Linked DNA regions of Homo sapiens: region 1 is linked to region 2. The links come from fine-mapping of genetic effects on gene expression. Tissue or cell type: testis. Region 2 holds a variant in brackets; the other region holds the start of a gene. All regions are shown on one strand. Distances are from middle to middle.

Region 1 (2,907 bases), 5.4 kb after region 2:
TCTCATGCCTCACTTTCCTTTCCTGCAGTGGCCTTGAAAAATGACACCCCACATTCCTGGAGCGGTACTGGAGCCACCAGAGTGAGCAGAATGAAGCTGTTTTTAAAGCCTCATTCCCAAAGATTTGTCCTTTCGGAACTGTCTCGTCAGACCTGTCTGGTAATACTCTGGAAGACTCCACATGCAAGATTGTCTGTATTTGACCTGACTTGGAGATTTACTGGTTTCTGGTATTTACAGAAATCTCTGTCCTATCCTTACTCAACAACCAAGCTAACCAAATAGAGACTTCAGTTGCCACAAGTAACAAAGAGTACAGACTTTGTAGAATTAGTTCAAAAAAATTATTAAATATACAAAACAGCTAAAAAATTGCAGCACCAACAATATACTCTGGGGAGGGAGATAATGATTTTAAGAGGTGTCACAATGTATTATTTTAAGTAGTCATCAACAGAAATTACAAGGCATGTAAAGAAACAAAGTATGGCTCTATAATAGGAAATTAAGCAACTAATAGAAACGGTTCCGAGAAAGTACAGACTTTAGTCTTACTAGAAAATACTTTAAAATTGGTTATTTTAAATGTGCTCCAAGAGCTAACAGAATGTGTGTCTAAACAACTGCAGTAAATTATGAAAACAATGTCTCACCAAATGCAAATATTCACAAAGGGATCGAAATTACATATTTTTGAAAAATTTATAGAAATTCTGGAGTTAAAAAGTACAACTAAAATGAAAATTTCACTATAGGAGCTGAGCACAAAATTTGAAGAAGCAGAAGAGAGTATAGCAAACTTGAAGATAGGTCAATTGATATTATCTAGTTTGAAGAACAAGAAGAAAGAAAATGAACACAGCTTTGGAGGCCTTTGGGACATCAGCAACAAAGCAAGATGTAGATTAGAAGAACTTCAGAAAGAAGGGAGACAGAGAAAGGGATAGAAAGAATATTTGAAGAAATAACGAATCAAAACTTCCCAAACTTGATGGAAAACATCAATCTACATATCTAAGAAGCTCAACAAACTGCAAGTAGAGTAAACTCAAAGAGATACACAGTCAGACACATCATAATCAAACTGTTGAGAGAATCTTGAAAGCACGAGAGAGAGACAAGTCATGTTCAAGGATCCTCAGTAAGCTGATTTCTCACCATAAACCACGGAGGCCAGAAGATACTGGATGACATATTCAAAGAGCTGACCAATGTCAACAAAGAATTCTATGTCCAGCAATATTATCCTTCAAAAATAAAGAAAAAATTGGGACGCGGGGGCCCAGAGCTTTCGGGCAGGCCCAGCCATTGAAACCCGAGACGCGGGGAGGAGCTGTCGCTGCGCTCCGGGAGGAACGAGGGCGGCCCTGGGCCTGGCCAGAGCGGCTCCCCTTACCTGTGACTCAACAGGCGGCCTCAGCCTCCATCCTCGGGCTAGGCTGGCGCCGCGCCCCGCCCCGGAGGCTGTCCCTGTGCCCCTGGCGTCCTCCTCCCTCTCCCATTCCTCCCCAGGGGCTGCCCCCATTCCCCGCTCCCCGGCCCCTTCCCCTCCCCCAGGGTCACCACCCAAGTCTTCCCAGCTACCAACCCCTGGCTCCCCAGAGAGTTTGCAAAGATTGTGGGCTCCACCTTCCCTCCTGATTCGCCACCCGCAGGAGAATTTACTATTTCTCTTTCATTTGTGGGGAGAAGACACCGTTAACGCCCCCACCCCCCGCTCACACGCCCACCCTCGCCGGTGCCCCGGGCCTGAACGCGGCACATCTCAACCCCCTCCCACGCCCCTTCACACTTCTATTATTTCTGTTTCTTTGGACAAGAATCATTTGCGTTAATGATTTTTTTTTGAAAACGTTCAAGTTTCACTCCAGTAAGCTTCCTAGAAGGAAGGAGGAGGTGAGGGAGGAGAGAGAAGGAAGAGGAGGAGGAGGAGGCTTTGGCTGCAGCTGCGGCGAAGGCGGTTTTGGCGACTTTGGCGGCGAAAATTTAGACAGTTGAAAAATAGGCCAAAGCACACTGAACCTGCAGGACATCCCGTAATCTTTTCTGCCCATTTCAAAGTCTTTCCCTGTCCTCACCCAACTATTACAGGCCGCTTTTGCTGAAACCTGACAATGTCATTTAGTAAATGTTCAGCTAGTATTCATTTGAAATAGAAATAACCAACAGCAGGTAATTTCTTCTTGGCCTGTTTCTGCGTGTTATCCAAGGGGAGGTGGAATACAGTGGTGGTTTTAAAATGCCAGCAGCCTAGGAACCCAAAGGCCTCAGCAGCCTGGCACCTCCCCACCCCCCTGCGGCTCTTAGGGGCCGAAAGATTGAGGGTCGTGATCAACTCAGTATACCACTGGAGGCCACGTGAGTAAGCAGCAAACTGTTTCTCATGAGAGCAGGGTGTTGGCAAACTGACAACCTGTGTCTGCCGCCCAGAAGGACTGCTGAGGGCAGTCACCACCCAGGTGCAAGTGTTTAGGATTAGACACAACTGAAGCCTGTTAGTAATGAGAACTTGTGATAATCAAACAGCTGACCAGTCTTAGGGCCTCCTCCCTGCTCATTCTCCCAATGAATGCGAAGGGCTGTGGAAGCTCGGGGGGCTGCCTTCGCTCACTAGAAGCAGGGAGCTCCCTTCTTCCCGGTTTCCCCTTCCTTTAAAACAGATTTTTTTAATCATTTCTACGTTTGTCCTTTCGTTCAGTCCTGTAATGACGGTCTCAAGTAGTAACAATAACTGTCGTAGTGACGGTCTCAAGTAGTAACAGTAATAACTGTCATAGTGACGGTCTCAAGTAGTAATTGTGGCAGTCAGCCACAGACACACAGGACTAAAGGTTCATTAATGTCTGCTGTAAAAATGTAGAATATATTTCTTCAAGGTCTGAAGAAGTATACATTTTTTGATGTACG
Region 2 (2,907 bases):
ACTCACTGAGAGCCATGACACCAAGATAGATCATGTCCTGATATGGTCATGTGCTACTACTGTCCACACCACCAGTAGCATGTGATTAGAGAAAAAAATAGATACAGAAGCTGGTCTGAAATATCCTTCCAAATCTCACAACTCATATATGACATATGAAAGAAAATTGATGGAGGAAATTTAAAATTTGGCAACAATTCTAAATATTTACCTGACATGAAAGTGCTTTTTATCTGTATAGCAGGTTGAGAAGCTAAAAGAAACATCTCAAACTATGAATAACACCAAAAAATGTTTAATTAACCACAACAGAGTAGACTCCATTATCTTGAGTCTCTCTATAAAAAGCAATATCAAAAACACTGCTATCAAAGACGATGCAGGCAAAAGATCAAAAAAAAATGACAGAGTATTCCAGGCAGATAATTAATTTAAAATATCATATTATTTTGTGATGTTCGTAGTTTTGTCAACTTAAAAATTGTGTAGCTTGTGATTTTTCTTTTCTACATATCCTCTTGCATACCTAATTTTATTAATTCACAAATTGCATTACTATTCTGAAAGAGGATCCTCCAACTGCAGAACATCAAAGCTCCCCCACCACCAGGACCTGCCCCCTAACTGCACCTGAACTTGAGAATCTTCAGTTTTTCTGAGTGGCCTGGGGTCTCAGAGTGGACATCATTCACAGGGCAGTCAAGGGGATGGCAAAGGGATGGCCACCAGGCAGCCAATCCTAGGAGACATGGGCAAGCCAAGCATGGCAGCAGGCCTGATCCGACCCACTTCTATTGTCTTCATGAAACTAGATGCTGGGGAGACACCTGATCACTGCTCTCTTGCCTCATTTGGGGCAAATAAGCACGACACCACACACACACACACACACACACACACACACACACACACACGGCAAGCCAGCAGGGCCCATCCAAAGGCCTCAGGCAGGAGCTCTGCAGGCACTTTCTGTCCTCCTCTTCTGGAGCCTTACAGCCCACCTTTGACAAGAGATTCAGACACCTTGAATTCCTGTGCTTACCAACGGCCAGGCCAAGGAGAGTCCAGGAATGCCACCTGCTTCCCATGAGAAAGGAATTTCTCACATGACACAGGGAAAGAGTATGCCCCCCAACTCCCGGAATTGGGAGGATGACATGAGACAGGAGGGATGGGAGCAGTGTTTCTAGAATGCTGTGTGTAGGTGCTTATAGAGTCCACATGAAAGATAGAAACAAAGTCCAGACCCTGCACTTGATCTTCGTTTAACCAGTACAATTTATCTTTTCATCTGAGCAAGCTCCAGTTCTGCCAAGTAGTCGCCACTCTATATCCCTGACTCTGGGCCACTGTAGAGTATTCTTGTTACCGGCCAGGACTCAAACTATTTAAACTTGCAAATAGGCTACTTGAGTCTGCAAGGACTTGGGGTGATGCAGCCAGAGAGGACACGAACACGTTACCTCCACTACACTCTCAGACTCTCAGACCATTTGCTTTGGTTCTCAGGAGCTTCTGCCCAGCCCGACTCCCCTTTTGGCCCTATGGAAGTTGAACTTGAGGCTCCAGAGGCAGGCTACACAAGGAGCTCCTTGCTGGCATGCCTCCAAACGGTATCCACCAGCGCCTGCTCCGATTCAC[G/A]CCAAGGTGACATGCACACATTTGAGCTGGTGAGGTACTTAAGAGGCAGGACTTCTGGTTCATTAAGCAGCGCCCTCCAGGACTACATACCTGATAGGAAGGATAAACAACTCAGTTAGTAAAGACTGTCCGTCATCTCCAGCTTGCCAGGGAAACAACTATCAAGAGCTTTCTTCTGATGAAATATCAATTTCTGTGCATCACTATGCAGCAGTGACTTCCTCCGCCCACCCTCACCCCCCGGCATCCATCAATCTTCCTTACAAAAATGATTACAGATAAATGGACAGTGAAAATCACAACTGCCCCGGGCATCTCTAACTCCCTGTTGCAGTTTTCACGTGCAGCATGCAGTGTGAGTTTTGCCCTCAGAGGGGCTCTGTGTGCAGGCTGCTCTTGCCTTTCCCAGTGGGAAACGAGTGGAGCCTGCCTCTGTTATTCGCTAAATCTTTCCAACATGCAACATAGCCTCACCTTAGAGAATGCTGGACAACTCAATGTCAAAAATAGCCTGTTTCATTGCCAATACGCAAGGCCAACCCTAGGCAACAAGAATGAAGATTAATGCCAAATCTCAATTCCTGGTTCCTCACATCCTCCTTGATTTTTAAAAAAGTGAGGGAAAAAAAAAAAAATCTGAGGTGGACAAGAAGCCTATTTGGCCTCCTGCTGAAAAGATATTAGTTTAATACACATTTTATTAAACATTATTTTCATACATGCATTCTGCACCTAGCATGTACGAGGCCATATACTGAGCATTTTGCACACGTTACCTTTTGTAATCCTTGCAATAACCCTTGAATTAAGTAGTGAGCTAAAAAGAAAGAGGCAGAATGGGCCAGAAATCCAACTTTCTCGGATTCTGATTCTGTGCTGTGTCTTGGTGCATAATTTTAAGAATCATGGGTATCTCCCTTCAAGAGCCTTCCCTACTTCCACCACTTCGGAAGTACATCCTGGAAGGGACCAGGTAGAGGCAGAGCCAGCGGCCAGCTGCTGGGAGGAGAAGTAGAGAGGGCTACTTAGTACTCCTCTTCACCTCTCGGGCAGAGATGATAAAAAGGAAAATTAAAAGGATAAAGGCTTAGATATTCCCAGGCTAAGAAAGGAGAAGAAAACCCAAAGTATATTAATATTAACCAAAAGGTATAAAAATATATCCCTGGCCGGGCACAGTGGCTCACACCTGTAATCCCAGCACTTTGGGAGGCTGAGGTGGGTGGATCACCTGAAGTCAGGAGTTCAAGACCAGCCTCATCAACA

Evidence for each region. PIP is the estimated chance that this variant, and not a neighbour inherited with it, causes the effect.
Region 1: it holds the start of LINC01582, and the variant in region 2 is fine-mapped to the expression of LINC01582 in testis (GTEx, PIP above 0.99).

The regions. Positions count from the first base shown.
Region 1 is chr15:98,087,110-98,090,016 of GRCh38, forward strand. It overlaps LINC01582 (long intergenic non-protein coding RNA 1582), which reads right to left and starts at 1,644. Exons shown (of 4, transcript NR_120325.1): 1 at 1,589-1,644.
Region 2 is chr15:98,081,719-98,084,625 of GRCh38, forward strand. It overlaps LINC01582 (long intergenic non-protein coding RNA 1582), which reads right to left. Exons shown (of 4, transcript NR_120325.1): 3 at 2,116-2,182; 4 at 1,261-1,731. Among named protein-coding and RNA genes, the nearest start is that of LINC01582, 5.6 kb to the right of the region's middle. The variant G/A (reference allele first, on the strand shown) is at 1,642.